7 separate regions of the Homo sapiens genome follow, and regions 2, 3, 4, 5, 6 and 7 are each linked to region 1. Evidence: fine-mapped expression QTL. A gene starts in region 1. Each other region holds a variant in brackets. All regions are shown on one strand. Distances are between the middles of the regions.

The links.
Region 2: its variant is fine-mapped to the expression of TBXAS1 in whole blood (TOPMed, PIP above 0.99).
Region 3: its variant is fine-mapped to the expression of TBXAS1 in whole blood (TOPMed, PIP above 0.99).
Region 4: its variant is fine-mapped to the expression of TBXAS1 in whole blood (INTERVAL, PIP above 0.99). The same link has a PIP of 0.9 or more in blood mononuclear cells.
Region 5: its variant is fine-mapped to the expression of TBXAS1 in blood mononuclear cells (TOPMed, PIP above 0.99).
Region 6: its variant is fine-mapped to the expression of TBXAS1 in whole blood (TOPMed, PIP above 0.99).
Region 7: its variant is fine-mapped to the expression of TBXAS1 in whole blood (INTERVAL, PIP above 0.99).

What each region holds. Positions count from the first base shown.
Region 1 is chr7:139,826,720-139,830,887 of GRCh38, reverse strand. TBXAS1 (thromboxane A synthase 1) reads right to left here and starts at 1,624. Exons shown (of 13, transcript NM_001061.7): 1 at 1,409-1,624. The coding sequence starts at 1,497. RefSeq lists an enhancer at 752-1,951.
Region 2 is chr7:139,981,967-139,986,134 of GRCh38, reverse strand. All of the region lies in intron 9 of TBXAS1 (thromboxane A synthase 1), which reads right to left. Among named protein-coding and RNA genes, the nearest start is that of PARP12, 79 kb to the left of the region's middle. The variant G/C (reference allele first, on the strand shown) is at 2,112.
Region 3 is chr7:139,884,838-139,889,005 of GRCh38, reverse strand. All of the region lies in intron 3 of TBXAS1 (thromboxane A synthase 1), which reads right to left. Among named protein-coding and RNA genes, the nearest start is that of TBXAS1, 58 kb to the right of the region's middle. RefSeq lists a silencer at 622-916. The variant G/A (reference allele first, on the strand shown) is at 2,140.
Region 4 is chr7:140,014,169-140,018,336 of GRCh38, reverse strand. TBXAS1 (thromboxane A synthase 1) reads right to left here. Exons shown (of 13, transcript NM_001061.7): 11 at 2,477-2,614; 12 at 504-666. Among named protein-coding and RNA genes, the nearest start is that of PARP12, 47 kb to the left of the region's middle. RefSeq lists an enhancer at 1,099-1,599. The variant C/T (reference allele first, on the strand shown) is at 2,136.
Region 5 is chr7:139,916,227-139,920,394 of GRCh38, reverse strand. All of the region lies in intron 4 of TBXAS1 (thromboxane A synthase 1), which reads right to left. Among named protein-coding and RNA genes, the nearest start is that of TBXAS1, 89 kb to the right of the region's middle. RefSeq lists enhancers at 3,188-3,487, 3,390-4,168. The variant C/T (reference allele first, on the strand shown) is at 1,604.
Region 6 is chr7:139,941,473-139,945,640 of GRCh38, reverse strand. The region is part of intron 5 of TBXAS1 (thromboxane A synthase 1); the gene reads right to left. LOC105375532 (a long non-coding RNA gene) reads right to left here. Exons shown (of 2, transcript XR_928043.3): 1 at 1,338-4,168; 2 at 1-556. Among named protein-coding and RNA genes, the nearest start is that of TBXAS1, 110 kb to the right of the region's middle. The variant G/A (reference allele first, on the strand shown) is at 1,745.
Region 7 is chr7:139,968,887-139,973,054 of GRCh38, reverse strand. The region is part of intron 9 of TBXAS1 (thromboxane A synthase 1); the gene reads right to left. Among named protein-coding and RNA genes, the nearest start is that of PARP12, 92 kb to the left of the region's middle. The variant A/G (reference allele first, on the strand shown) is at 2,437.

The sequences.
Region 1 (4,168 bases):
AGTGTAAAAAAGTGTCCGCTTTGAGAACCACAGTCAGAGCATAGCTATTGATGAGATTAATATGAATAAGCACATTAGTAAGAAATTAAAAATAAACCTAAACCACTAAAGACTTATTTTCTTTTAGGTTACATAGATGATAGATGGTTAATTATAGTGGCTGACATCGACTAAGCACTTTCTGCATGTCAGACACTGTGCTTCGGGCTTCCCGGAGCATAAAAACACATTGAGATGGATTATTGGGGGCTGGGGGTAGGGAAGGAGCTACCATTTGCTCTTGGTTTTACATGTGGCCAGTTTCAATCCAAGGTAAGCTACAATGAGATAAAAAAGTTCAAAAAAAAAATTAAACCAGTTAAAAAGAAAAACAGCACTGGGACTGAGGCTGGGTTTCAGAGCCAATTTCCAAGAAGTAATTTCATCATCATAGAACATCAAACGTGAATTCCACTCTCAGCTATGCAAATTCCAAAAGAATAATACCTCACATTTGCATAATGCTTGATGCTTTTCAAAGTGCTTTCCCAGTTATTAATCTAGAGAAGGCTTTATTACTACTGAAAACATAAATTAAAATTCTGTTCGGACTCCAGTCCTCCATTATTTTTTCCACTCACTTTGCCCTCAAAAGCCAGAGCCATCTAAATCCAGGTGCTTTTGATTGAATGGGTAACTCTAATAAGTTTAACTGACAGGGCGAATATGCATAAATGTAGCATATTATGAGGCCTTCGACCTACAGACACCAGAGTCAGCCTTAGGAAAATTTGCTGTTGAATTAACAAAACCACAGGGGAGCAACTCGGAGTTCAAGTTTGAGATCCTTTCAGGGTCTCAAATTTTGTAGGAGCTGCACACACTATGTTCATCAGAATCCATCTCCCTCTATCAACTATGAGAAATTAGATCTACCACTTTGTCCTTAACCCTACAGAAATCCCCCTCAATGACTTCCTGCAAAGAGGCCCACATTTGCCAAACAGCTCCTACGTCTTGTTTTGTTTTGAATGTAATATGAACCAAGAGGCTGAATTCACTGTAAATCCAACAAGGACAGAGGATTTTAGAAAAATGAGGTGAGGAGATATGACGGGGTTCAAGGAAATGCTTCTACCCAAACCTAATGCCTTTCCAATTTGTTTCTTTTTCCATCTCTTTCAAACTTAATTATGTGTAGCGTTCTCAGTCACTGAATCACCAGCCTTTCCTGACACTTCAATCTCATGCATTTTAGCAAAAGATTAACCTGGCTGTTTGCTTTTAATTCTGAAGCTGTGTTAATACTCACTCCCGCTAGATTAGAAAAGAAGAAAAACACACTCCCACATACCCCGCCATGGCACCAGCAAGGCTCCAGGGTGAGACGGCTGACGCTGTCACAGTCCCTAGGGCTGGCTGCACTTACCATTTCAGGAGGGCCAAGAGAGCCACTGACAGGGCCACCGTCACCATGGGGCCATTCACTTCCAATTTTAGAAACCCCAAGGCTTCCATCATTCCTCTGAGACCCCAGAGTGGTGGTCTTCCAGATGAGACAGGAGGCTGATCTCGCCGCCCTTATGGGAACCGTGCTCTGCAGGTAGAAAAGGGAACAGGCAACCAAGCAAACATCACATGGAGTGGGCCCCCACAATGTGCTCTTTCTCAGAGTGTCTCCCTATAAAGAGGAAGGAAGAGGAGGGCACAACAAAGGGTTTCAGTGTAAAGGAATGAATCAGCAACTTTATTCCTTGATGACTGCACTGTCAATAAACATTTATATTAACTTCCTCAGAGAAGAAAAGCAAACTTCCCCATGTTTGCTGAGAAACAAAATGGTTGTAACCACGGACTTGTACTCTGAGAGGAAGTCTTCAAAGAGAGACTCTTCTCCAAAATGTCTATCTATATCTATCTCTATGTCTATATCTATATCTATATCTACATCCATCTATAATTTTTTAAATTCACAATTAAGTGAAGATACATGTCAAGAGATTCTGAATATCCCAGAAAAATACAGGACCAGACGCCAGCCTGATCAAAATGCTGGCTGCTTTGAGGACAACCATCCCACCAAGTCCATTAGTTGCTGGGTCTGAGGACCTGTCTGAGTGTCTGGCTGTTGGAGCAAAGCAAAGATCCCGATTGGGGTCAGTGTTCTCATGGTGAGTTGGAGGGCTTCTCAAGTGTTTGAAGGCAGATCCGTAGGCTCATATATGGGTCCTTTGTTCTAGCTTTGAGCTTATCTGACTAAAGTGGACAGAGAGATGGAGGGGATCATAGTGGCTGGGTGGCAGGACTAGATTGCAGCTTCAGACAGAGCAGCATCTGGAGGCTTCCATGGTGAATTTTAGCTCCAGATCAACTGCAAGAAAAAACCAGCAATCCCAAAAGGACCCACAGACTCTCTGAAGGAACCAGACTGCTCCTGCAGGACCCAGAAGACACTCCAAATACTGTGAGTGCCCCATTTGCGGAAGTGGGAAAGGGAGACCCTCCTCTCCCAACACAATCCCCCAATATTGAATGGGAGAAATATTCAATGAAATAGCTTAAAGAAAAAATAATTGAAAATTCAGGAAACTTTGGACACACTTTTAGAAATGTGAAATGCTCTGGAAAGTCTCAGCAATAGAATTGAACAAGTAGAAGAAAGAAAATCAGAGCTCAAAGACAAGGTCTTCAAATTAACCCAATTCAACAAAGACAAAGAAAAAAGAATAAGAAAATATGAACAAAGCCTCCAAGAAGTCTGGGATTATGTTAAATGACCAAACCTAAGAATAATTGGTGTTCCTGAGGAAGAAGAGAATTCTAAAAGCTTGGAAAACATATTTGGGGGAAGAATCAAGGAAAACTTCTGCAGCCATCTAGAGACCTAGACATCCAAATACAAGAAGTACAAAGAACACATGGGAAATTCATTGTAAAAAGATCTTTGCCTCAGCACATTGTCATCAGGTTATCCAGAGTTGAGACAAAGGAAAGAATCTTAAGAGCTGTGAGACAGAAGAACCAGGTAACCTGTAAAGGAAAACCAATCAGATGAACAGCAGATTTCTCAGCAGAAAACCTACAAGCTGGAAGGGATTGGGGCCCTGTCTTCCGGCTCCTCAACAAACCAATTATCAGCCAAGAATTTTGTATCCAGTGAAACTAAGCACCATATATGAAGGAAAGATACAGTCATTTTCAGACAAACAAATCCTGAGAGAATTCGTCATTACCAAGCCACCACTACAAGAACTGGTAAAAGGAGTTCTAAATCTTGAAACAAATCCTGGAAACACATCAAAACAGAACCTCTTTAAAGCATAAATCACACAGGACCTATAAAACAAAAATACAAGTTAAAAAACAAAAGCAAAAAACAAACAAAGAAGTACACAGGCAACAAAGAGCCCGATGAATGCAATGGTACCTCACATTTCAATATTAACACTGAATGTAAATGGCCTAAATGCTGCACTTAAAAGATACAGAACTGCAGAATGGATAAGAACTCACCAACTAACTATCTGCTGCCTTCAGGAGACTCACCTGACACATAAGGACTCATGTAAACTTAAAGTAAAGGGGTGGAAAAAGACACTTCATGCAAATGGACACCAAAAGCCAGCAGGGGTAGCTATGGGCTTCCTTTTCTGTGCCCCCACAGGTCTTAGGATGGTCACAGGTACATTTGTTACAGAAGGCTGTGGTCACAGGTGCAGATTCCCTGGAAAGGAGTGAGAGAAAAGACAGGGAGGGCACACAGAAGGCTGCTGCCTTCACCCAGAGAGAAGGGATGCTTGGCTAGAGGAGAGAGGGAGGTGGGAAGAAGTAGATGGACTTGAAATATATTTTGGGGGTGGGTTCATGCTCTGCAGAAGTTCCTGGTGGGGTGCATATGAAAGGGAAGGGGAAAGGAGGACCACACCTGACCCTCAGGTTCCAAACTTGAGCTACAGGTATATCAGGTGCCATTCATTGAAACAGGGAGTCTGGGAAAGGTGAGGTATTGTTGGGAAAATCAAGAATTCTGATTCAGTTTTGTTAAGCCTGAGATGCCCTGGAGACATCTGAGTGGAGGTGTCGAGCCAGAGAGCACTGATGGCTGAAAATATGAATAATAACAATTGATCATGATCATGTCATTTGAGTGCTTACTACACACTAGTTATTCTAGGAGCTTTCCTATGTG
Region 2 (4,168 bases), 160 kb before region 1:
ACTACAGACCTTGTAAGGCCTCCCCATGTCCATTCTGTGGCACTCCTCCGCCCGCCAGCCTGTTTAGGTGGGCCGCTGTTCCGGTGGGCCTGGCCAACACTTTGTTTTCTCCCTGAAGATGCTCACAGAATGCTCATGTAGCACCTCATGCCACACCTGGAGACCAGGCCCTGCCATGGGGCCATGTTGGGAACAGGCTCCTGGGTGCTACCAACCAGGACCTCAGTTCTAGGCCCCCGATGGTCCACACACTATGGGGGAGGGCATGGAGCTGGACAAGAGGAAGTGGCACCCGAGTCTGTAAGCGCCGTCCACCCATTCATTCCTCAGGGCACCTGTGATGCTCCAGTTCCGTGCTGGACATTGGGGGATGCTATAGTGGGTCTCACCTTATGGGGAGCTTCCAGTCTAGTGGAGGGGGACAGATGAATCCCATCAACAGACGTGAAATCACCAGTGCTGAGTTTTGAAGATGTGAGGAGGGTAAAATAAGAAATTGGTCACCAAACTCTAGATTACTTGAAGGAGTTAATTTTTTAGAACAAATAATAGGAAGTAGCTTTTTCATCCAGTGTATTTTATACTTATAGGGCTTATCAGTCTACAGGGTTACAATAATTGAGATAAATTTAGATAAATTCAGAGATGACAACCCGATAATGGGTTATTAATGATGCACTAACGACCACCCTGGCCTTTGGAAGCAGCTGATAACAGGGCAGCGGCTACCGCTCTGTACTCCACACCATCAGCCCACACCAGGGTTCGCTGCCATTCAAGGCATGTCACCCTCTAGAGGGACACAGACAGTCAGGCTAGAGGGGTGGGGGGTGGATGGGCAGGGGACCTGAAACCCTGCCACATCAGGAAAAGCTGCAGAAGCCAGAGGGACATAGCCTTCAACTTTGTAAAGGGCCACTGTGCTTTGGGGTCCCAGAGTTTGAAACCATGGATGGAAGACACAGGGAAATGAATTAATTGGAGGACACTGGTCTGGTCTAGCCTCGTGGAAAGTCCTGCCTTAGGAAGAGGTGAGCCCCTCGCTCCTGGAGTGACTGGCAGAATGATCTCCAGCAGAATCCTGGGGAGGGCATTTGAGCCTTAGTTGCTGGGACTGACCAGCGATTTCTGAAATCCTCCCAGGTCCTCAGATCCTGGTAATTTGATCTTTTCTTTCTTTCTTTCTTTTCTTTTCTTTCTTTCTTTCTTTCCTTCTTTCTTTCTTTCCTTTCTTTCTTTGCTGCTTTCTTTCTTTTCTTTCTTTCTCTTTCTTCTTTCTTTCTTTTCCTTCCTTCCTTCCTCTTTCTTTCTTCTTCTTTTCTTTCTTTCCCCCTTCCCTTTCTTTCTTTCTTTTCTTTCTTTCTTTCCTGCTTTCTTTCTTTCTTTTCTTTTTCTTCTTTCTTTCTTTCTTTTCCTTCCTTCCTCTTTCTTTTTCTTTCTTCTTTCTTTCTTCTTCTTTTCTTCTTTCTTTCCCCCTTCCCTTTCTTTCTTTCTCTCTCTCTCTCTCTCTCTCTCTCTCTTTCTTTCTTATTTTTTTATTTTTGATCCCTAGGACAAAATAGTGTCCTGGGGAAATGGGACATCAAAAAGGTAATTTTGGCTGGAGGGGCAGGAGGGTAGAAAAATTTCTAGTTCAAAAGGAGAGAGCAACCCAGGAGTGGCAGGTGAGGGACCCTGGTTACTGAGGGGGCAGAACGCAGGTGCTGAGGCTCTGGGTGGAGCAGAGGCATTGTGGCAGGTCAAGGAGGGACATGTGGAAGGGACACATGGAAGGGACGTGAATCTAAGGTTTCTGACATGGCTCTGTAAAAAAGGAATAATAGGAAGATTTGAAGATTTGAAACAAAGTAGCAAAATAAAAAAAATAAGTGGGTACCAGGCTATGTGCTAAGTATGTTATTCCACTTAACCAGCCCTCAGTCTAACAGAGCAGATGCTATTATTATCCCCTTTAAACAGTGAAGAAGCGAGGCTTAGGGGGAACTGTGTCATGCCCCAGGGCCACATGGCCGGGTAAGGGGTCCAGCAGCTTTAAGCCAGGGAGGTGGGCCCAACGTCCATACCCTCAGCCATCTTCATCCTACTTCATCACAGGGTCGGGGAAGATACAA[G/C]TGATGAAGGCATTGTGGTACCTGCAAGATGCTGTTTGTGCATCTCACTGGCCCTGAGTGGTGCTGAGCCTGAGGGTTGGAGGAGACTTTCTCCACTGGCAGCTCCAAGGGAAGGGGAGCTCCAATCCACTTCTCTGTGCAAACTGATCGACTACTGAACTAATAAAAATATTGGAAGGAAGCCCTGAGTTTGGATTCTGCAAACCAGGATGAACTGTGGTAGAGTCACAAGAAAGGGCTCTGGGAAAATGGCTTTCTTTGAAATTTGTTTATGACAACTAGAAAAAAAAATGTGTGCGGAGTGGGCGGCTCCTGGAGAGGATCCAGAGGACAGTACACTGAATGATGACAAGATCCCAGAAAGTTCTGTATGTTGTTTGAAAATCTAGACTGAGTAGGTGAGAAAATATATAAAATACATGGAGATCTATTGGGTTGGTGTCTTTCTTCCCGCCAGTTTACTCATCTGCAGGCATCTCAGCTCAGCAGCCCCTGCATCCTGATGACAGAGGGTAAGAGACACAGCAAGAAGACTGGAGTTCTGTATTTGCTGTGTGACCCTGAGAAAAACACTTAACCTCTCTGAGCCTCTGTTTTCTCGACTCTAGAAGGGAATCTTTATAACAGATACCCTACCGACTTCATAGATTAGGGAGAACAAATCACAACAAATAATAGTTTTTCTTATGTTTTTATGTTTCTATGTTTTTCTTATGTCACAGATGGCACCAATCCCAGTGAGAGCACATGGAAGGTTCATGGTTGAGACCTCCTGAGGCACCAAAATAGTGAGCCGAGGTTGAAGATGGGGCAGGGCAGTAAGATGCCAAAGATCAGAGGGTGCGTACCAAGACAATTTGGTTTAAAATGTTGATATCAGTCAAGAATGTGCCATAAGCAATGATGTAATCAGTTTGCATCAGAAATGATATAAAACATGGAAATTTGAGAAGAATATGAAGTATAAGGAAATAGTATACAAGTAATATAATTATGTAAAATAAAACAAGTAAATGTGGATCCCAGAATGTGTATTACAACTTGGAGACCAGGAAAATGGATACTAGAAAGAGTGGTGGAAGGAAACCAGAAAACGCAGGGTTGGGAGTTGGGGGACCTAAGTTTTATTTCGAGTTTGGCCACAAATGAGCAAAAATTTTCCTGGAAAGGCTCTTAAGGAACCCGATACATTTCCTCGTTTGTAAAGTAGATTTTAAAAAACCTCCTCGTTCATTTTCCTGAACTGTGACCCTCTAACCCAGTGTTTTTCAACATGTGGGCTGTGATCCTTTAGGGGACCATGAATTCAATCCATGAATTCAATTTAGGGGGTTAAGAGTGGCATTTAAAGAAATGAAATCAACTAGAACAGGATGTCGAGCAGATTGTACATAGAAGGTGACATGTTTCCTAAAACTTTTTGTTCCATTTATAAGGGATGTGTGTTCTGGGTTGAATTATAAATTATATTTCTTATGATGAGATTGTAGTCCAAAAAATCTGGAAAACAGGGCTATAATACCCCTGGTACTGTCAAGAAAGCCCAGGCATGCTGCCTGCCTCAGTTTCCCCCTTTGCACTGGCACCTCTCTTGTCTGATCTCTTTGACTCTGTTAGTGTTCCTAGGAGAGCCAGCCTCCCCCACAGTCTAAAGATATCAAGGTCCCAGCAGTAAGTGCCTTTCTCCATAAAACAGCACCCCTCTGCCCTGCCAGAGAAGAGCCAGTAGAGAGAGGTTAAACTGCTTATGAAATACAGAGTTGCCTGATTTATCAAATAAAAATATTAATATAACCATTCAGTTAAATGTGAATTTCAGATATACAATAAGATTAACTTTTTAGTATAAGTATGTCCCAAATATTGCATGAGATACACTAAAAAATTATTTACAGTTTATCTGAGATTCAAATTTAACCAGAAGCCTGTATTTTATCTAATAACCCTAAGTAACTCATAAACAAATAACAAACAAGAGGGAAATTTTCAGAAGATTAAGACTTTTAACTGCTTCAAACTACAAAACTTTGTGTTTTAATATGATCATAAATTAACAG
Region 3 (4,168 bases), 58 kb before region 1:
TTTCTGATAATCTAAATCACTCTTATCTCTCTCACCTGTGCTATCAGAATGTTTTTTGCTAGTTTTTTTTTTTAACTCAATTCCATCCTCCCCCTGCACCCCTTCTCCACTCTATACCTGCACAACTTTCTTTAAATAACCCACCTCCTTAGCACCAGTCCTGAGGTTCTCTCTCATCTGCCACTGCCAAGGTTGTCCTCTCTACTTGTGCCCCAAACATCACATTTTCCTAGCACACATTTGGCCTCTACTCTTCTTCTTTCTATCTCAGCCAAAACCTCTGAACTTTCTCCCATGCATATGTGCCTGGATACACTCTTCTCCACAGGCCACCTGCCACCTCTCCTTTTTTGGATAGGTATAATGTGAGCTAACCTTTCCCAATGAGCACACACTCAGTGCAGAGACTGTGGGGTACAAGAGGGGAATTCAATATGTCATGAACAGTCATGAAGCAGGAGTGTATGCCCTGTGATATAGTGGAAAGACTGTGGGAAAAAAACCCAGAGGAAAAAAATTGAGAAGCCACCAATTGCAAGAACAGGATTTTGACAAATTACTCAAGGTAGGAAGCCCAGAGATCGAAGGGTCAGTTCCAGGAAGAGAAGGAACAGTGTAGACCCAGGGAACAAGGAAGCAGAAGTCAGTAAGAGTTTCAGACACAGAAGACAAAATTTATGTGAGACACAAAGGCCACAGTGAGCTGGTGGGAAAGAGGAAACTTGGAGGGGGCTGAAGGCAGAACCGAAAGGCAGACACATAAATTGTAAAGGGTTTGGCAGCAAGGAGTGAGATAAGAGGAGAAGGAGCTCTGGGTGAGGACTACTGGGAATTTATTAAAGCAAACTGAATTTATCGTGCAGTGCAAGCATTTGTTGATAATGGGGTCGGTTTGGTTAAAAATGCGCTTACTGGCCTAGCCAAAAGGAAGTTACAGGCAAAGTCACTGGGGTCATACATTCCAATTAGAAATGTGTGGTTCACCTTGACCAGTTGGGATCCAGGGCACAAAGGGAAGTGTAAATTTAACCTGAGCTCACTCTCAAGGTTTGAAAACAAGAAGTAATGGCCACATAATCGTGGTGAAAAGGGGACAACAAAGCATTGCTATAAGATGTCCTCCAAAGGTGAAATGGTATGGTCACTATGGAAAACAGTATGACGGTCTTCAAAGAGCTAAAAATAGATTTACTCTGTGATCTGGCAATTCCACCTCTGCATATATACCCAAAAGAACTAAAAGCAGGGTCTCAAAGAGGTATTTCCACATCCATATTCAAGTAACATTATTCACATTAGCTCAATGCTGGAAGTAACACACTCCGCCATCTACAAACAAACGAATAAACAAAAGGCAGAATAGGCTTACAATGGAATATTACTCAGCCTTAAAAAGGCAGTAGTTCTCCCATGTGCTACAACATGGATTAACCTTGAGGATATTATATTAAGTGAAATAAACCAGTTACAAAAGGAAAAATACCATATGATTCCACTTTATTGAGGTACTTAGAGTAGTCAAATTTGTAGAGACAGAAGGTAAAATGGTGGTTGTCAGGGCCTGGGGGAGGAGGGAAGGGAGAGTTAATGTTTAATGAGGACAAAGTTTCAGCTTTGCAAGATGAAAAAAATTCTGGATGTGAACGATGATGATAGCTGCACGACAATGTGAAGGTACTTAATGCAACTGATCTATACAATGAAAAATAGGAGAGTACATTTTGTGTGATGCATATTTTAACACAATAAAAATAATGTCCTCCAGCCAAATGTCCTTCAGGTTATTCTCAATACCTAGATCTAACCGAGAAGTGGGAGACCATCAATTCTGAAACCATGGGTCACAGTGTTCCTCCTGCTGGCCAGGTTGTAGAGGCATGAAAACCCATCCCACCTACTCATATGAAACCTTTCTCCTATGGGTGTTAGCTGTGGGTTCTCGGGCCCTGAAGCCCTGGTACTCATGAACAGGTATGGATTTTGAGCAGGGCAGAACTCAGGATGCTAAGTGTCCATTCCAGATTGGAGATAAAGCATCCTTGTGGGCTCCTACACAGAGGAGGACAAAGAGCTGAGGCTTCTTGCTCATGGGATGCTCCAAAGAACCAAAACTCTAGCAGAGAAGGCTAAGCCTTTGGG[G/A]GAAGCAGCTAACAATCTTTAGGCTGGAGTCTTTGGGAAGAACCTAGTGGCCATGTCAATCATCAGTCTCAAGCTGTGGTCTGGCAGTGAGATGAAGAAGTGAACTTGAAGAGTTACAAGCAATCTTCAAAGGCAAATGGAAGAGCCATTCAACAGTTGCCTCTTTGTGGTGAATATGCACTAGGCATTACATTAGCCACGGAAAAGATGGAGGTGGCACAAGCCAGGGAGTACCTGGATTTCCTTCCTGCAGTAGCTCTGTTGTGAAGTGCAGTAGTTTTGATTCAATCCTGGATGCCCACATCTCCAGTAGGCCAAGTAGTATCAAGAGGTGCTGGGGGGTGTTTTAACAAAAAAGACCACAATTGCCTCATCAAACTAACATGCTATGACAAGCCATTCACCAGCCATAGATTCCGGGCAAAGGTTAATAGGTTCCTCTTTAAGCCGAGGCCAAAAAAAAAAAAAAAAAAAAAAAAATTCATCTGCAAAGAGTGCCTCCTTAGTGGTTAATGTGGGGAGCCTGGAGAACATGTCAGAGAGTCAGACCTTTATAAATAGGCCAATAAACTGACAGCCTTACTCAGGGTGGAAAAACTTCATAGAGTGGGTTGCAAAATTCTTGCAGCTTGAGGGTGAGATGGAGGAGAGGTTGTTAGGAGCACGGTCTTGAGATACGAAGAATAATCAAAGAACTTATTTTCGTAGTTAAGTTTATATTATCTGCCCTAGGCAAGCAGGCATCATAAAACTTGGTGGGGCCTTGCTAAGGAATTACTTTGTGTGCATAGCTATAGAAATGTTACACATAAGAGTGATCAGGAGTAATTAGAATGCATAGTAAACAACCCAAACTTTAAAAGATTTAAAGATCCTAAGGAAGAAAGAAGAATATGTTCCAGTTTAAAGGCTAACGTCAAACATTCAAAATTTAGTAGAATTTCAAACGTGTATGCGGTGGTGTGTGACTTTTTTTGCTTGAAAGTTCACACTAGTATCTGGAGTTAATTTGGTTTTAGACATTTAGATTCCTTTACCTTTTGCCCTATGTGAGTAACAAGATTTAGAACTGGTTTTTAATCAAGCAAGGATTTCTAAGAACTTGTTTGGAAAAAGTTCCTCTGCTCACAAAATAGTGATGAAAGAGGAACTTTAAGCTCTAAGTGAATTGGGAACTCATTGCTTCTTCAAATTTAGTAATAATTTCTTTTAAATTTTGAAATCAAAGATGGCTTGTCTTTCTTCTTTTTAGATAGAATAGGAATGCTATTTGCATTCTCAATCAGAGTGAAGAGCCCTAAGAATTGGGTAAATGTGTGCACTTTTTGAGACTGTCTGTGCAAAGTTCTTGACAAAAGATATATGCATACAGCCATGTGCTTTCTGGACCTGCTTCCAGATGGGAGAATGCCTTGACAAATGTCACAGTGATTCATGACTGTTTTACATACTCTATTATGCATTTTGGGTTGAACAACTTGGATTTGTTGCAGGTACGCTTCAATTAAATGTGGAATTTATTATTTGAAGATATTAGCTCAAAATAGAGCTTTTATGCAACTTTAATTGAGACATTCTATCGATTGGGAACACATCTGTGCAGAGCTGTCACTTACAGGATAAAGAAGGTACTGATGCCATATTTGATAGTTACTAATGAGGAATGAGTTAGTTCCCTTCCACCTTGAACGTGATATACAGTTCTCCATGGTAGATTTTGGATGTGAATATCAAGGAAAGCAAAATTAAAAATCTGTGGCTGACGCTCCAGCCGCTGCAGTCCTCTCTCCTTTCTAGCCAGGTGCTCTGTCCCTCATCTGCAGGCCCAGCCCTGGCCCCAGAAGCAGGAACAACCTCCAGCCACACATCATGAGACTCGGTGCCTCTCCAGCATGGATCTGTTCCAACCATGATGGACCTGTCCACCCTGACTGATATCGGAGATTAGGTCTGGCTTCTGGTCCTGGGCCTCACATGATGCTGTGAATCTTAGAACTGAATGTCAATTCCTGGTTCATCCTCAGAGCCC
Region 4 (4,168 bases), 190 kb before region 1:
TGAAACCCTTCAGCTTCCCCTCCAAGCAGACAGCACCTTGCTCTGTCAGGAGGAGCCAGAGGAAGTGTCCCCACCTTCTGTAGGACAAGCCATGCACCCCCCACCCCGCAAAGGCAGGCACATGTCACAACTGCAAATGCCATTGTCTGTGTGCCCTTTGTGGAAGTGGGAAGAGCTACAGCAAGGTGAGGTCCAGCCCTGGTGTGCAGAGAACAATACTAATAACAATGGTTAACACGTGCTCGGGTTGGCTTGCCAGGGCTTACCTGAGCGCTGTGTGAACTCACTGGATCCTCACAGGATGTTGAGAGGTAGAGGGTGTTATTATTATCACCCCCACTTTACGAATCAAGAAACTGAGGCCGAGAGAGGTTAAGGAGCTTGCCCAAGCTCACGGAGGCAGAGCCTGATGTTGCCCCCAGGCTGGCCTGCTCTCACGCAGAGAACTGGGGTGGCCCTCCCACCCCTGCCCCTGCCCCTGCCTCTGAGCAGGGGGGCCTCACCTGGGTCTCAGGGCAGGCTTGGAACCGGAACTTGTGCAGCACGTGGAGCAGTGTCAACTTGACCTCAAGCAGCCCTAGACGCACCCCGAGGCAGCTCCGTGGGCCGGCCCCGAAGGGCAGGTACGTGAAGGGCCGGTGCTGCTGCCGGGCCTCAGCCGTGAACCTGCAGGTCCGTGTGGTCAGGGCTGGCCCAGAACACCCGCTCCCTCCCCTCTGCAGCCCTGTGCTCCAGCTGAGCCACCCCTGCATCTGAGACAAGGATGTCTCCAAGGCTCTGGGAGCTGATGGCTGCTCATTCCTGAGCCTCAGTCCCTCTCTGCTCCTGGCCTCCTGTCTTCCTGCACAGCCCCAGAGGCAGAGCTGAATTCGCAGAATCACCTGGAATGTCCACAGCTCCCTCCCTGCCTCTCCTTAGGAATTCAGTGTGTGGCTAATAAGCCCACAGACTCACCGCCACCCACAATCAGAGTCTAAACACGGCATCCCTGAACCCCAGGGTTTGGTGATCACCCTCACCTGGGCCCATGGCGCCACCTCCCCTCCCATAGGATGACCCAGCCGCCACCTGCTTCCTTGGCAGGGTACCGGGCACCTCAGCACCTCCTGGGCCCTCCCTGGGGGGCGTGTCCTGCTGGCTTGCCCTGCAGGTCTCTTGGGCCACACTGGCAGCCCCTCTCCTGCCCGTGTTTGCTTTGCAGGCCCCTGCACTGGACACTTGAACCACTGGAAGCTGCAGTACCTGGAGAGCTGGAGGCCCTTCCTCAGAACTGCTGAATCTCCTACCAAGTAGTGCATTTGCCTGCAGCGTGTGTCCCATGACAGTGAAGCTAGGTGGCACTCACTGTTCTGTAACAGCGAGCTCACTTTTTACTACCCCTGGGCTTTATTGTGAGGCTGTAAGCCCTGTGGCTGCGGCACGTTCAGGAGCTGCTGACTGTGGAATATTGTTGTGTAGATCCCATTGCTCACGTTTTCCCAGTGACTGGGTCGTAGGCTTGGGCTGAACTCAGTTGGAGCCATGAAAGGTGAAAACACAACTGGTGCCGGGCCAGCCCTTCCCTTGCCAGATCACACACACAGGATATTGACTGGTTCTGATGAGGACCAGAGTGTGGGCCGCCTGCTCAGATGTTTCCAATCACAGAGCCCAGAAATGAAAGGAGACAATGAACCAAAGCCAGGTGGTGGAAGGCGGGGACCCAGGTCAACCAGTGGATCACGTGAATTTAGATTCATGGAGACATCAGCTGAAGCTGTTGTTTTGGCATAGATGCCCGTTTTTTAAAAAGGAAATGATGTTCCGTTACTTTCCAGTGCAGACCTGAAATACAATCCTGTATCCCATGTCCTGGCTTGAATGAATGGAAGACAATCATTTGAAATTGCCTTGTTCCTTGCATGCAGGGCTGCTGAAATGCTAAATCTCTGGATTCAGTTTGGACCTTGAAAAAATGGTATAATTATTTATTTATTTATTTATTTTTATTTAATTTATTTATTTTTTTTTAGACAGAGTCTTGCTCTGTCACCCAGGCTGGAGTGTAGTGGCACCATCTCGGCTCACTGCAAGCTCCGCCTCCTGGGTTCACGCCATTCTCCTGCCTCAGCCTCCCAAGTAGCTGGGACTACAGG[C/T]GCCCGCCACCACGCCCAGCTAAGTTTTTGTATTTTTAGTAGAGATGGGGTTTCACCGTGTTAGCCAGGATGGTCTCGATCTCCTGACCTCGTGATCTGCCCACCTTGGCCTCCCAAAGTGCTGGGATTACAGGCATGAGCCACCACGCGTGGCTAAAAAATGGTATAATTATTTCCTTTGGAAATTATGTCTTGCAAACATCTATCTGAATTGCCATAACTTTTGACTATTTGGGGACAATTTTGCTAAGTCTGTGCCTCCCGGCTGCTGCCTCCACTGGTAAATTTCTATCCCACACACTCACATCCCTTCAGAGCTTTTTAAAAGGGGCAGTACTCACCTTTCAGGGTTGAAGGTCTCCGGGCTTGGCCAGTGCTCAGGGTCATGGTGCAGGGCACCCACGGCCATCTCTAGCACAGCGCCTGCGGGGATGCGCTGCCCCAGCACCTCGCAGTCCTGAGCTGCCTCCCGTGTGAATCTGAGGGAAACACCAGGTCGGGGGTGGATACAGAGAAGAGATGAGGAGCAGAGCTTGGGGCGTGCTGGGCAGGCAGAGTCTGAGTGTGAAGGGGATCAGGGGCAGGCAGCATGGTGTGTGGAATGAGGCTGGGGACAGAGGACCCCCTGCTCAGCCCCCTTCCCAGGGTGACCAAGCCCCTACCCCATTACCACTCACTGCCCAGGAGCCTGCAGCCCCGAGGCTAGGCTCACTTGGTCCTTGATGAAAATGTACTCATCCATCCCTTCATGCATCCATTTGTCAAGCACAAAGGGCCCCTCTTGTGCCCCATGTCGGGGTGCAAACTGCTTTGGAAGGATTGCTTTCATAGTGGGGGCCTGGAGGGTCATTCCTGGGCCACAGCCTATCCTATCTTCCCATTCACAGCCAAGCCTCTTAAAATTGCCCTTGCTCACCCTCTCGCTCCCTCTCCTCCCATTTCACTGACTAGCCCTGCTGCCTGGCATCTGTCCCCTCCCTCCTGTGGATGGTCCCCATGCCAAGATCCCCAAAGAATATTTATGGGTACATCTGATGAATACTCCTCAGTCTTCATCTGACTTGGTCTGTCTATGTCATTGATTGTCTTCCTCTTGCACATTTCTTTGGTTTGTTTGTTTTTCTGTTTTAATTTTCATTAGGAAATAATTCTGAACTTACAGAAAAGTTGAAGAATAGTACATTAGATACCCATGTATCGTTTACCCAGATTCACCTGCTGTTTTTTGCTGCATCCTCCTCCTCCTCTTCTTCTTCTCCTCCTCCTCCTTCTTTCTTCTTCTTCTTTTTTTTTGAGACAGGGTCTTGCTCTGTCACCCAGGCTGGAGTGGCACAATCTCTGCTCACTGCAACCTCTGCCTTCCAGGTTCAAGCAATTCTCCTGCCTCAGCCTCCCGAGTAGCTCAGACTACAGGTGTGTGTCAACAGGCCTGGCTAATTTTTGTGTTTTTAGTAGAGACGGGGGGTGGTTTCACCATGTTGGTCAGGCTGGTCTCGAACTCCTGACCTCAAGTGATCCCCTGCCTCGGCCTCCCAAAGTGCTGGGATTACAGGCATGAGCCACTGCACCTGGCCTGTGTCCATCATCTTTACCATTCTCTGTGTGTGTGTCTGTCTCTCTCTCTCAGACACACACACACATGCACACACACATTTCTTTCCTTGATTTCTCCCTCATTGGCAGGCTCTTCTGCATCCACCAGCCTCTTAAATCCTGGCACTTCCCAGGGATTTCGTCTGCCCTCCCAGATTCAACTTCCATTATCTCCTAAGCCTCCTACCTCAGCCCCAGCCTGAACCCCAGGTTCCAATTTCTACCCACAGACCCGGCCTCTTCCCTGGGCGGTCCACAGAATCCTCGAAGTCGGCCTGAGCAGCAGCAGGTCATCAGAATCTTCTCCTCCTTCTGTTTCCCACACAGGCTTGAGAAAGCCGGAAACCAGAAGCCATCCTGTACTCGTCTCTCCCCGTCTGCAGATTCATCACTGGTCTTTCGTATGGTGCCATCTCTCCAGTTTTACTGCCATCTCCTTA
Region 5 (4,168 bases), 90 kb before region 1:
TAAAAGAGGCAGGAAGGAGAAGGTGAGCAGAGAAAGTGAAAAGTCATTAGAGGGGTGACAACAGGTAAGAGAGGAAAGTGTGGTTTAACTTTGCCCCTTCTGCCCCTCTTCAAAGGCTAGATTAGTGCTGGCAGCCAGAGGGGGACAGAAAACCCAGCAGAGGGACCCCTCGTTGTCTTTACTTGCTCTGCTTCAAATAGCCATGCCTTGGGCATTTAGGAAGATGTGGATGAACCCCACACAGAATGTGTCAAGACCACAGTCTCTGACCCTCCCTGGCCATCCCACAGCAGGAGCTGAATGGCTGCTAGCTTCAATGATCTTGAGCTGGGTTTGCTGCACTTTATGTTTAGGGCTGTACAAGCTCTGCTCTGAATGGTGTCTGTGATTATGCTGTGAATAATGATGGAGCAACTACTGTGTGCCAGGTGCTGTACTGGGACTGGAACTATCAAGACAAAGAATGGAGGGTGGGAGTGGGGTGGCCTATATCACCAATACTTGTCCATCTTACAGCAAACACAGTACTTTTCATATTATTTCATCAACTCTTGGGTCATTCTCCAGCAATTAGGAAACACTGCCCTGAGGAGCAGGTTATTGAAGAAAACCAACACCTCGGCATTCCATGGGTGCATGAAGACAGCAGCCACTTACTGAAGGTTTCTCATGCACCAGCCCAGTGATTCTCGACTGGCCTGGTAAAGCCACACAAGAACCACTGGCTCCTTCCAGAGTGTTGCAAATGCATGGAATGCATTTCTGCTGTAACCGGGTTCATGTATTATCGGGAGAAAGGGATGAAAGGCATGATAGAATATGAAGCTATAGCCACAAATGTTTTCTTGTGTTCTGGAACATGCAAGAAATGGACTCAAGATCTAGATGATCTCTGGGATGACTTGACAGATGATCAACAGTTCTGAAACAGCCACACAAGGCTGAGAGGCCAGCTGAACAGAGCGAGGTGCTTCTAAGGACTCCAAGAGATAGTGTTATACCTCAGTGGTTGTAATGTGAGTACAGAGAGCCAACTTGTTTATGCCAACTAGTCTGCAAAAATATTAATATCAAAAAGAGGACCACGGTCACAAAGACTAGGTACCACTGTTACAAACGTTGTTTCTAATTCTCACACAACCAGGCACAGATGAGGACAGCCATCGTGCAACTTGTCCCCTTCCCACCTGGAGACGTGAAAGACCTGGCACTGTCCCCTCATTATATTATAATCAACTGAGACTCAAGAATTCTGTCACTTGTATAACCCCAAATTCTATACTTGAGGCCATTGTCAATTTATATCTATTGCTATCTGGCTGTACAAAGATTTGAACCAAATAGGGCTTATATTTTGGTGGTTTGAAATAGTAAAGGTGTCCCTTTTACTAAAAATAGAGTATAAAAAAATTAAAATGTAAAAAAAAAATACCAAAAATGAAAACAGTAGTGGTCTTACTCTTCTACATGTCAGTTTTCATTCATTCCCTCTGCTGGTAGAAGGTGGCCATAGATTTGACATCATCTTCGCTCTCTCTGTGGGAGAGTGTGACTGGCCTGAGAGAATGGCCTCCGGGTGAGGTTGTGAGATGTGTCCACAGCT[C/T]GAGGGGTCAGCTCAGGGGCATGTGGTGGCTAAAAACAAATTTGGGCTCTATCTGCCTAGTCAGCTTCAGCTGCTGGAAAGGGGCCTCTTCTAATTATGGCAGTCCTGCCTGACGGAGTTCCAGCATTTTATCCACTGGGGAGGAGGAGGAAGCCAGGCGCTTGGAACTGTGCTTCTATCAGCCCCAAAGCTGACAGTGAGGGCCCCTCCTGAGCGGGGAAGGGAATCTGGGGGCTTGTTAACTCTTATCTTTGCAGGAAACTCTCCAACAGATCTCAGCAGAGTTTCTGGCCAGAAGCAGTGTTCAAGAAGGACAAGGGTGTTCCTGATATTGCACTTGACATGCTTGGCTGCGAGAATAAATTTTCCTGAGGGGGCCTAAGAGGGGCTTGTTCCTTGTACCTGAAGCTCCAAGTGGCTCTATGGGACGCTGGTGGGACTCCGTGGCTCCCTGTGGCTGCCAACGGTCACGTGAACTGGGCACCAAACAGACCTTAGGGATTAGCTAGTCTAATGTATTTTACACAGGAGGAAATTGAGAATCAGGAGGTTAAAGGATTGTCTGAAGGCCACACAACTAATAAGAGGTAGCAAATCTGGAATCTGATTTCATTTCTTTAAACTAAAATCAAAGACATTTCACCATACTACTGAGCTATGGCTTAGAAGAGGGAAAATGGGAAGAAGAAAGGGAATGTCATAAGAAGGAGATTGGGGCGGAGAAAGACAGGGAGGATCAGGACTTAGTCACTTGATTTCCATGGAATGTTCTGGAATATATCCATTGAGAGATAAGAATTGATTTTATGGTTTATTTCTCTATTCTCATGCCTAAATTGTAGATATTAATCTCCTGGTTTACACACTTATTTCTACTTCTGCCACGACAAAAGTTAGGGAAATATGGCATAAATATCAGAGCAAGCTTTTACTAATTTCTTTTTGTTAAAAAAATATATAAAGATAGCTTCCTGCTGAACCAAGAGTCTAGTAAGACACAAAAATATGAAATCATTTTCAACAAGGTCTTGAAATTTTAGAAAAATCTCTGCAAGGCAGAGAGAAGTACATTTGAGCATTGAGAATCAACACCACTTAACACTATTCCTGTGTTCCCAAGGCATCACAAGACACTCAGTACTTTTAAAGATGTTAGAATTAAAACTTAGCTACCATGTTGGAAACGAAGCTCAGTGTGTTGTACTGATTAAATGTAATGCCATGGATCTGGCTTTTCTAGGACTTAGCCATGTCCAGACATTAGAAAAGCAGGTGAAATGGGAGACCTGCAGGGGACAGGCATCCCATTGCGACTGTCACCTGGGAATTCCAATGGGGCAGCCCATCCTGCAACAGGAAGCTTCCAGTTCAGATTGGAGGGTTTCCTATGCACAGCAAAGACCTTTCGCCATACCACTGGGCTATGGCTTAGAAGAGGGGGAAATTAAAAGAAGAAAGTGGGTGTTATAAGAAGAAGATTGCGGCAGAGAAGGAGACGGAGGTCACATAAAACAAAGAGGCCTCAAAATAGAGACGGGGGCAGGCAAATGAGGTTGCACACCTGTGTTTCTGGTTTCACTGCCCTCTGTAGTCTGTTTGTGCTTTCAGGAAGAACTTCTCCCTTGCTCAGAGCTGTAGACCCGTAATGTGAGTTGACCTTTCTCAAGAAATGCACAGCTAAAAAAAGTTGGCAAGGTTTGACTGAAGCCATGAGAGCTTCCCTAGGTCATGCATGGCAACCACTCTCACAAGTAAAATCTTGATGCACATGTTTGAACATCTGAGTGTCTTCATTTACTCAATGTTTGATTTAAGAGAAAGAGAACCAGGAACTCCAGGTGAACAGTTTTCAAAAACTGTCAGTGGTTACAGGTGTAGGAATGAGTTCAAGGGGGGCGGTTTTATGGCAAGTCTGCCAAGGGCCCCTCTCTCCTCAATGGATGCCAGCAGGCGGGTCCCTGTGGCCCCCGCACAAGGGCGTCTGACTCACCTGTAGCCCTGAATTGAGCTTTCCTTGCCAATTAGCTCTGCAATGAGCCAACATACTCTTTTCTTCCTTCGATAGGAGGCTGCTGCAGATACAGAGGACAGGAAGGTTTCCAGTGACTAATTTGCCTATAACTTTAGTCATCTTCACCAATGCCAAGGAGTTTGTGGTTTCACAGTGACTCATCCTGCAATGTTCACAGCTGTGTGGAGAGCGAGTGAAGCAGCCCCTGAGAGGCTGAACCTGGGGCAGCCAGGGTGCCGGGTATTGATGGTTCGGGATAAAACCACCCACCACGTCCATCACATGGCTTTGGACGTGACTCTTGTGTGTCAGTGGTGTGGCTCGACCTGTGCCTGGAGAGGTGACCTCTGTGTTGCTCATGAGGACCTGAGAGATGGCACTCCATACTGCCACTCCAGACCAGAACCCACATCTCCAAAGCACTAGGCTTAGTGTTTTGACACATCCCTGACATGCCTATCTGACCAGACCAAGCTAACATGGGCCAAAGACTGGCTTACCTCTTATCACCCTTCCCACAGCTCCCTAACTCTAGGCCTTGATAGGAGGCCAAG
Region 6 (4,168 bases), 110 kb before region 1:
TGGTAACTATTGCATGTTGTCATGGATTAATGAAGTTTTTGGTATTTGTTATATCAAGAATGAGCATAGCACACCCCATTCTGTTGATTTTCTAGAAATACCTGTGTGATGACTGATTGATCAAATGTTCCTTGAGAGCCTTGACATAGAAGGTACCCAAGAAACATGAACAGATTGAGGCACTGTCTCTTAGCATGAATACAGTGTGGTTTGCTGAAAACTGGCTCTGAAGAAGAAAGCTGAGACTCATGCTGGTCCTATGTGTTACTTTGGACCTGGCATTTGAATCTCTCTGAACGTGGGTCCTCATCCCTAAATGAAGGGCTGATCGCAATGAGCTATAATGTCCCTTTCCACTGACATTTGAAGATTCCAAGGAGGTCACAAAGCATCAGGTTGAGACAGTTGCTTGAAGCCATGGAGAGAGCAGCCAAATTCTTAGCTCAGTGCAGGGAAGTGTCAGATCATTGGTCCATGTGCTTTCAGCAACACATCCCATTCCCAAGAAAGCCTTTTGTCATTTCTTTGACACATCAACTTCAGAATACATAGGGACCTAAAGGGCAGAATCTGGTTATTTTTGTGTTCAAATGAGAATTGGAACCCCAGATATCCTGACTCCTGGCTTGTTGCTTTCCCACAAAACTCAGCCTCCACATTTCCTTTGCTCCTTAGTTTATTCACTTCTAGGTCATTCTGTGCAGATCTTATGTCATAAACTTGAGAAAGAAAAAACCCACCATCTTTAAGCCTTTGGAGTTCCTGAAAGTTTGGACAATGCTGAGTGCTAGGGAAAACATATTTCCTACACAGAGAGAGGGAAGGAGAGGGTCTTTTTTACATAACCCTATCCATCTAAACAGAGATAAGCCCCAAACGTTGATGGTGTGTAGCTTGGGTGACTTGTTGATCCACACACGAAGAGGGACTCAAAAGAGCCACAGTGGACACCGCTGCCTTGATGTCATAACATGGCCCCTGGGAGCCTGCCCATACTTGGGGCTACTACAAAGAGGAGACTCCTCCAGACAATTCACAGTTCCCCTCATCTGCACCAGAAAGATTTGCCCCATGGGTCTGGGAAATGGCTGGCTTGGGGGCTAAACAGCTGAAATGAAACCCTTTTTCCTAACACAGAGTTCTGAGCAGGTCACTCCCTCACTTTCAAGTATTTAATAGCTCCTCGAGCTCTAGTGAAGTGTGCACCAAACACTCTCTCGGCACAGAACAGTGAACTGTACGTGCCTCAACCTACTTTTTCAGCTTTCTTTCTCACTAATCCCTTACATGTACTCTGTGTTCCAGCCAATTTGTACTCCCCTATTCCCTGAACATACCCTGTACTTTTCTGTCCAGATGCCTTGATTCCTGCAGCTCATTCCACCTGCAATGCACCTTCTCCCTCTGTCAAAACAGCAAAATCTTCAGAGCTCAATTCCGGTGCTACTCACTGCTTCCTCCCTGCCAAAGTGGCTTCTGATGCTCAAAGCAGGACCCCAGCTCTGTCACCACCTTCCACGATTGGTAATAATGCAGTGATTTATGTACCTTGTTTCTCTTCTACATTATAAACTCCTTAACAACAGGAACTAATTAATAAATATTTGTTGACCTTTATAAATTGAACATTTCATCTGATTTGGCCCTTGGTGGACCTGGGGGCAATATTTTGGGGCTGATGTCAGAGGAGGGTTTTCTGAATAAGTAAGGGTCAGCTGCTGGGGGTGGGGGAAGGTATTTAAAC[G/A]TATTTCTGGGTTTTTTTTTAAAATGAAAAAATTAATGCCTTAAAGTGCTCTAAACTGGTGACCAACAAATGAAAAATTAATTTCCACTAATGAAACTTATCACTTCCTTCTTCCACTACACCATCGCTAAAAGCCACCCAGATATTAAAAACATCCACGACTCCTTTTTATGCAAAATTTCCTGCTGCTAAGTATCAGCTCTAGCCATCTAGGTGAATAATCAAGTGTCATTTCTAATAAGTCAGTGGCTCCTGTCAAGACTTGTGACCAATTAGAAGTCACCCCAATGAGGAGGTGGCTGCTGGCGTTGCCAAGCAACAGCCAAGCTGTGAGGCACATTTAGATGCTCTTTTAGATTTAACCAGCGGCAAGTCAGAGTGACATTATAATTCTGGCAAAGGAAAGCCAAATTATAACCCAGGCTGGGGTGCCCATGATGAGGAGTGTGTTTTCTTTTAAATGCAAATGCAAAAGGAACATTTAAACCAGAATTTAAACAGTCCATCATGATAGTGATTTTAATTAGTAGATCAGGTGTCGGTGGAACACGACTGTGTCTCAGGATAATGGTCTCTCGCTGCTAGATAAATACCCAGCTATTCCAGAAAATGGGCAACTGGTCAGGCAAGGCCAATGTATTTTTGGACTCTGAAGTATTGATGACTACAGCCACACTTGGTTATAATGACGTTCATTTTTATTGTTCAGGAGGATTAAGAAATAAAAGCAAATATTAAAAATAGACTGCTGGAAATGGATGCCTCCTAGAGAAGGCTGCTTGCTCTAATGTTATTGGGAAGCGTGTTCTGCCTTAGAAGCCCCCATATGTGACCATCTGGAGAGTTTACAGTGAAAATTTAAAGGCCAAACTAAACTGTGATGATGACTGTAATTCTGAAAAGACTTTTGCACTGAAATGCATTTACTCATAAGCGGGCTATATCAACTTAAATTTTTAAAAATTGTAGTCATTCTCGAGTAACATGTCGTCTCCAAGTCAGGAAATGCCTACAGGGAGTAATAACCACATCTGCCTCTGCCTTTAAGATTCATACATTATTGACTGTGCCTTCTTGACGGGGAACATCTGGATGAAAAGTGAAAAATTAGGCAGAGAGCCGGATCAGTGCTGTGCGAGATACCAGCCTCCCATTTTATCTGACTTTTCTTTAACTGAGTCCCTATGCATAGCAACATGATTGGTTCATTTACTCTTGAGTGACACATATATCCTTAGGCACTCATCTATGAAGATTCATTGTCTCCCATATCTGCTCAATGGGGTACCATCAGCTCTTAGTTATCTGGGTGAATGAAGAAAGCCCATCATTTATATTGGGCTTTGAGAATGGAGAACATACAAGCTGCCATATTGGATTGGATCCATGGTTAATGAGGTTTGAAGCTTAGTCTCTGCTAGAGGCACTCAAAAACTGGGTTCTTCATGGAAGCTACCTGCAAAGGATAATTGCTCAAGAGACTCATTTCTCTCAGTAGCCAACCAGGAAGTTAACAACCCACGTTCTCTCCTTTTGAAAACCTATTTGAGCCCAGAATAAACAAAGTTAAGCAGGTTTCTTTACTGCAGGCCTTTCTCAAGCCTTTCATATGCTCAGGTACATGGTGAATCTTGAAGAATATAGTTTGTAATATTTCACCAAATTATTTGACTATGGGGCCTTTTCGGTCCTCCATATTTCAAATCCTTTTCCCTGGTAGTAATTCATAGCTTGAAATTCATCATCATATAAGTACAGTTTAGATGCCTTTCTCCTAAATGTATTCTTTTATTCTTGCTTACACTGAAGGTTACCTGCCACTTTTGTGCTGACTTATGCAATCTTACAAGAGTCTCAGAAAGTTATTCCTATTGATTTAATATCTTTCAAATCAGAACAGCTTAGAGGAATATACAAATATATAGATTCCACTGTGTTCTCTCTCTTTCAGATGAGTTATAAAATTTAAAAATAAATCTAGTGCTAACCTGGGTCCCCAGGGGATCACATTATTTATACATTTTCCGTCAGAGAAGTACTAATTTAGCCCCAGTTTTATTTCCTGAAATTAAACCTATTTATTCCCTCATCCTTAATAAAGTTTTACACAATCCCAGGGTTACTACTCACTAATAGTCTTTGGTAAAGAATCTAGCAAAAGACTGTGAAAATCTAAATCTACAGTTGTGCTTTTTAAAACGTCAATTCTTCGGGGGATGGAGTGAAAACTCTGGCCAGTTAAGCAGACAAAATCTTCCCTAACAACAGCAACAACAACAAAAAGTCAGTTGTTTTTCCAGGAATGCTCAGCCATCCTTTTCTATAAATCCCAATAACTTGTTTGTCGCTGGCTATGATTCCAATAGTCTCTTTTTCCTGACTTGGAGATGCATGAATCACATTTTCCCTGGTTCTCTGTTGCTC
Region 7 (4,168 bases), 140 kb before region 1:
AACCTGCCTCCATCTCCCCACGCAGTGCCTTCTCTCTTTGACTCCACCGACCCCTTTCTCGCTGGGCGCAGTAACTCACAGGCTTTATCTACTGTGCCTCCCTGCTCGTCCCCCCTCAAATCTGTGCTTGGAGTTGGTTTCCAGTTAGAAAAGGAAGAGTGAAATAACTTTTCTCAACACCTATTTCTCACGTGCCAGGCACTGTGCTCGGCCCTGGGACCTACCAAGGTACCCAGCGGACGAGGCTTCCTAGTCGTGGGGTTTACATCCTGGCTGGGACTTGATGATATTCCCCTCCCAAAATGAGTGGTGTGTTAATAACGGATCATGTGTCAAAACAAAGCCAGGGCCTCCCAATGGAAAATTTTAAGCCTAGTGACGAAAAGGTTTTTTGGGGACAAGAAGTCTTTAAATTCCCACCAGATGATACCATTTTGGAGCTTCCACTCCACTGGTGTGAAAGCGACTTTGGTCAACAGAGTCTGGGGAAGTTAAAAAAAAAGTATGTTTATTCTTTTATTTCAAGAGCTAATTGTTGGGAATAAAACCCATTCTTTTGATGTTTTAAGAGCCCATAATGTGTGCAATAGTTAAATAAATGAGCCATTCAGTTGCAAATGTAGCTCCATGCCAAGCAGATGCACAGAAGGTTGAGCTTCACCTGTGGAGCTGACTTTCCCAAGTTTATTTTTCATTCTTGCTTTTCTGGATGGATGTGAACCAACCCCACAAGCTTATTTGCTTAGCAAAGCTTGGTCCCTCTAGAGGCCCAGCTATTGAATATGAAAGACTCTGATTTGCTACATGAAAGACACCACATACATGCTGATTGGTGTGACCCATTCCTGGGAGAGACTTCTCTTTGCAGGTGCCCCTCCCTCTGCTCTGCAGGGACTCAGGGGGAGGGGGACTTGGGGCATTAATTGCTAAAAATTCAAAGTGCTGGAGTGTTGCAGTTGATGAAGCCAGGCAGCCCAGAAAAAAACACCTGCAAGTCTGTCCTGCTCTTCACCCTGCCTCCCCTGTGCCACCCCCATTGCAGGCATGTGGGTCTTGGCTGCTGTGTGCACTTACAGGCTTCTGGGATGACCAGGGGCTCCCAGGGGGCAGTGGGTCAGGAGGTGGAGCAGGAGCAGAGAAGATTCTGGGCCTCTCTGGACCTGGGAATAGAGTCAGAACAAGAATAAGGGAAGAAAGAGGGGAAGGAGATTAAATAGTGCTGTGAACAATGAAGAGAGGAAAGAGGAAAGACAACAGAGAAATGGGGCAGGATGAGAGGGAGAGGGTGGGCAGGGAGAGGCACAGCGGTCTCTAAGCTCCTGGTTGCCACTGCTGAGGCTCCTGGGAGCAGCTCCCAGGCAGAGCGGGTCAGTTTCCCTACGGGTTACTGTGGGCATGGGCTTTGAGTATCTCCAGGGGATGTGGAGGAGTCTGGAGTCCTGAGTAGGGGCAGAGGAAGGTCTTGGCACCCATTTGCAGCCCAGATGACCTCTGGGAGGCACAGCCTGCCTTCCCGCAGGTATCCCCAGGACGGGAACAGGCAGATGGCCGGATCTCTAAGATAAGTTTGTGTGCATAACAATGAAATGGACAGTTAAGATCCGAGGCCCTGCCACCTGATCCAGATCGATTGGTCACCCTGCTTTGGGAACTTGTGACTTGTCCACTGATGGGGCACAGAAGTCCCTAGTATCCTGTGTCCTGGGAGTTGGTGTGTTGGTAGCAGTGACCACAAAACTTAACTTCCAAGATAGGGTTCCAGGTACACACCCAGAGAGGCCCCTCTTCACGGGCTGGGAGGAGGGGCCTTTCTGATATTAGTGGTCAGGATGCAACTTTTCCTCCCTTTGCCTGATATTAGTGCCCTGATATTAGTGGTCGGGATGCTACTTCCCAGGGCCAGATGCTTCCAGAAAGAAGGACAGGAGGTGGGTACCTTGGATACATTTCCAAGGCCCCCTGCTGAAGCTCCTATTCCTCTAGTGGAAATAGCTCAGATTCTGTCCTAGGCCACCAAAGAAATGGCATCAGAGACATGCTCTTTGGCTATAGTTGTTTGGCATGGCCTCCCACCTGGCACCCGAAGCTACTGTCTACAACCAAGGGGCTTAGGGGAGTAGGGAAGCTAAGGGGCTGGGTGGAGCCCCCTGCTTAAAAGGATTGGCCTGAGGGTCCCGTTGGATGTGATAGGTCTCCAGTCTACACACATGTCCTGACAGAAAGCTCAGGTTGCCGTCTTCATCTGCTTTGAAAATGACTTTAAATCACCTCAAAAGCTCCCCCTAACCTCCCACCATGGAAACAATTACTGAAGAAAATAGATGATTTTAGGCTTTATTTAGGATTAATACACTTCTAACATGTATTAGGATTGGCTCATTCCTGCATCACTTCATCTCCCACTCAATAAAGTGAATGCCATCATGATTATGGAAT[A/G]ATCAGGAAACCACTGAGATTTATTAGCAAAAGGTAAACCACTGAAGAACATGAGCACATTAAATGTCATGAGGAATACATACTTGCCATGTCCAGCACACGTGAGAGAGACACAGTACGTATGGTTCAGAACCTGGCTCCTTGTACATAGTGTGGGCCATGGACTGGCTGTATCAGCATCACCTGGGAGCTGGTTAGAAATGCAGACCCTTGGCCGGGCACGGTGGCTCACGCCTGTAATCCCAGCACTTTGGGAGGCCGAGGCGGGCAGATCACCTGAGGTCAGGAGTTCGAGACTAGCCTGTCCAACATGGTGAAACCCTGTCTCTACTAAAAATACAAAAATTAGCTGGGCATGGTGGCGTGAGCCTGTAATCCCAGCTACTCGAGAGGCTGAGGCAGGAGAATCACTTAATCCTGGGAGATGGAGGCTGCAGTGAGCCAAGATCGTGCCACTGCACTCCAGCCTCGGGGACAGTGAGACTCCGTCTCATAAATACAAAATAATAATCACAAAAAAGAAATGCAGACCCTCAGGCTCGTCCCAGACCTGCTGAATCAAAATCTGCAGATTTAGTGACTCCCAGGTGATTCCCGTGCACGTTAAACTTTGTGATGCCCTAACCAAGGGCCGGTGCCACAGCCCGTTGCCACTTTTCTCACGCTGCAGTGACGCTGTTCTTTGTTTTAGATTCAACATTAGGGCTGTAAGGCGTTCTCTGTTTTGCCTCTTCCCTTGTCCCTGTGGCTTTGTGCTCTGTTGTCCTGTTGTGCTGTTGTGGGGTCTGTCAGAAGGCAGAGACTCAGCAGCACCTCTGACCCCTGTGTGGCTGGGGGACTGAATTGATGGGGAACTCCTGAACTTACTCCTCACCAACTGTGGGTAGCCCGACCCCAGCAGACCTGGGCAAAGGGGAGGAAACCTTCCCCATGGGGAAAAACCCATTTCCAGTTTTCTACTTGATCTCAAAGCCAACCATGCCCTCCTCCCTGGGTGAGATCCACATGGGAAGACATTTTTTTTTTCCATAGTGAGGATAGATTTGTGTTAAGCTATTCACTTTTTTTCCTGCTCAACCCTTTCCCTGTGACAAAGGATGTGTATTCATGAAAAAGCTAGTTGGGGGTAAAACGGCTTTTTTTTTTTTTTTTTTTTTTTTTGTAAGCACATAATATGCTTTTTTTTCTTGGAGATCCTCTGACTGCTTCAAGGAACAAATCCTCAACCTTGCTCACACAGCAGCATGAGCTAATAAGCTGAAATAACCAGCACAGAATGTTCTTTTATCCTTAAGAGAAAAAGAAAGAGTAAGTTGTATTTTAATTAGATATTTATAATGGTTACAAAGCAGCTCTTCAAGAGAAGTTTTAAGAATTTGGCCTTCCTTCTAAGGCATAACTGTGTTCAAATTATCCTAAAGAGAGGCTGTATATCAATCCAATCCAGTCTGTGATAAATTTACAACTGGGTTCTGCACAGCAGATTTATAACAACAATTAAGCAGAAGGAAAATGGGTCATAAATTTTGGCTGGCAGAGTCCAGCACCAAAGAGAAGAAAAGAGAATGGTTTAGCCAGATCAAAAGTCAATAATTTCAACATAGAACACTAAAGCTATAGAAGACACAATTTATATGAAAAGAAGTTGGTTTTTTTCCTTTCTCATCCTTTTCAAAATTACATGAGAACACAATGAAGCAGCCATATAACAAAGGTCTCATTAAATAGATGG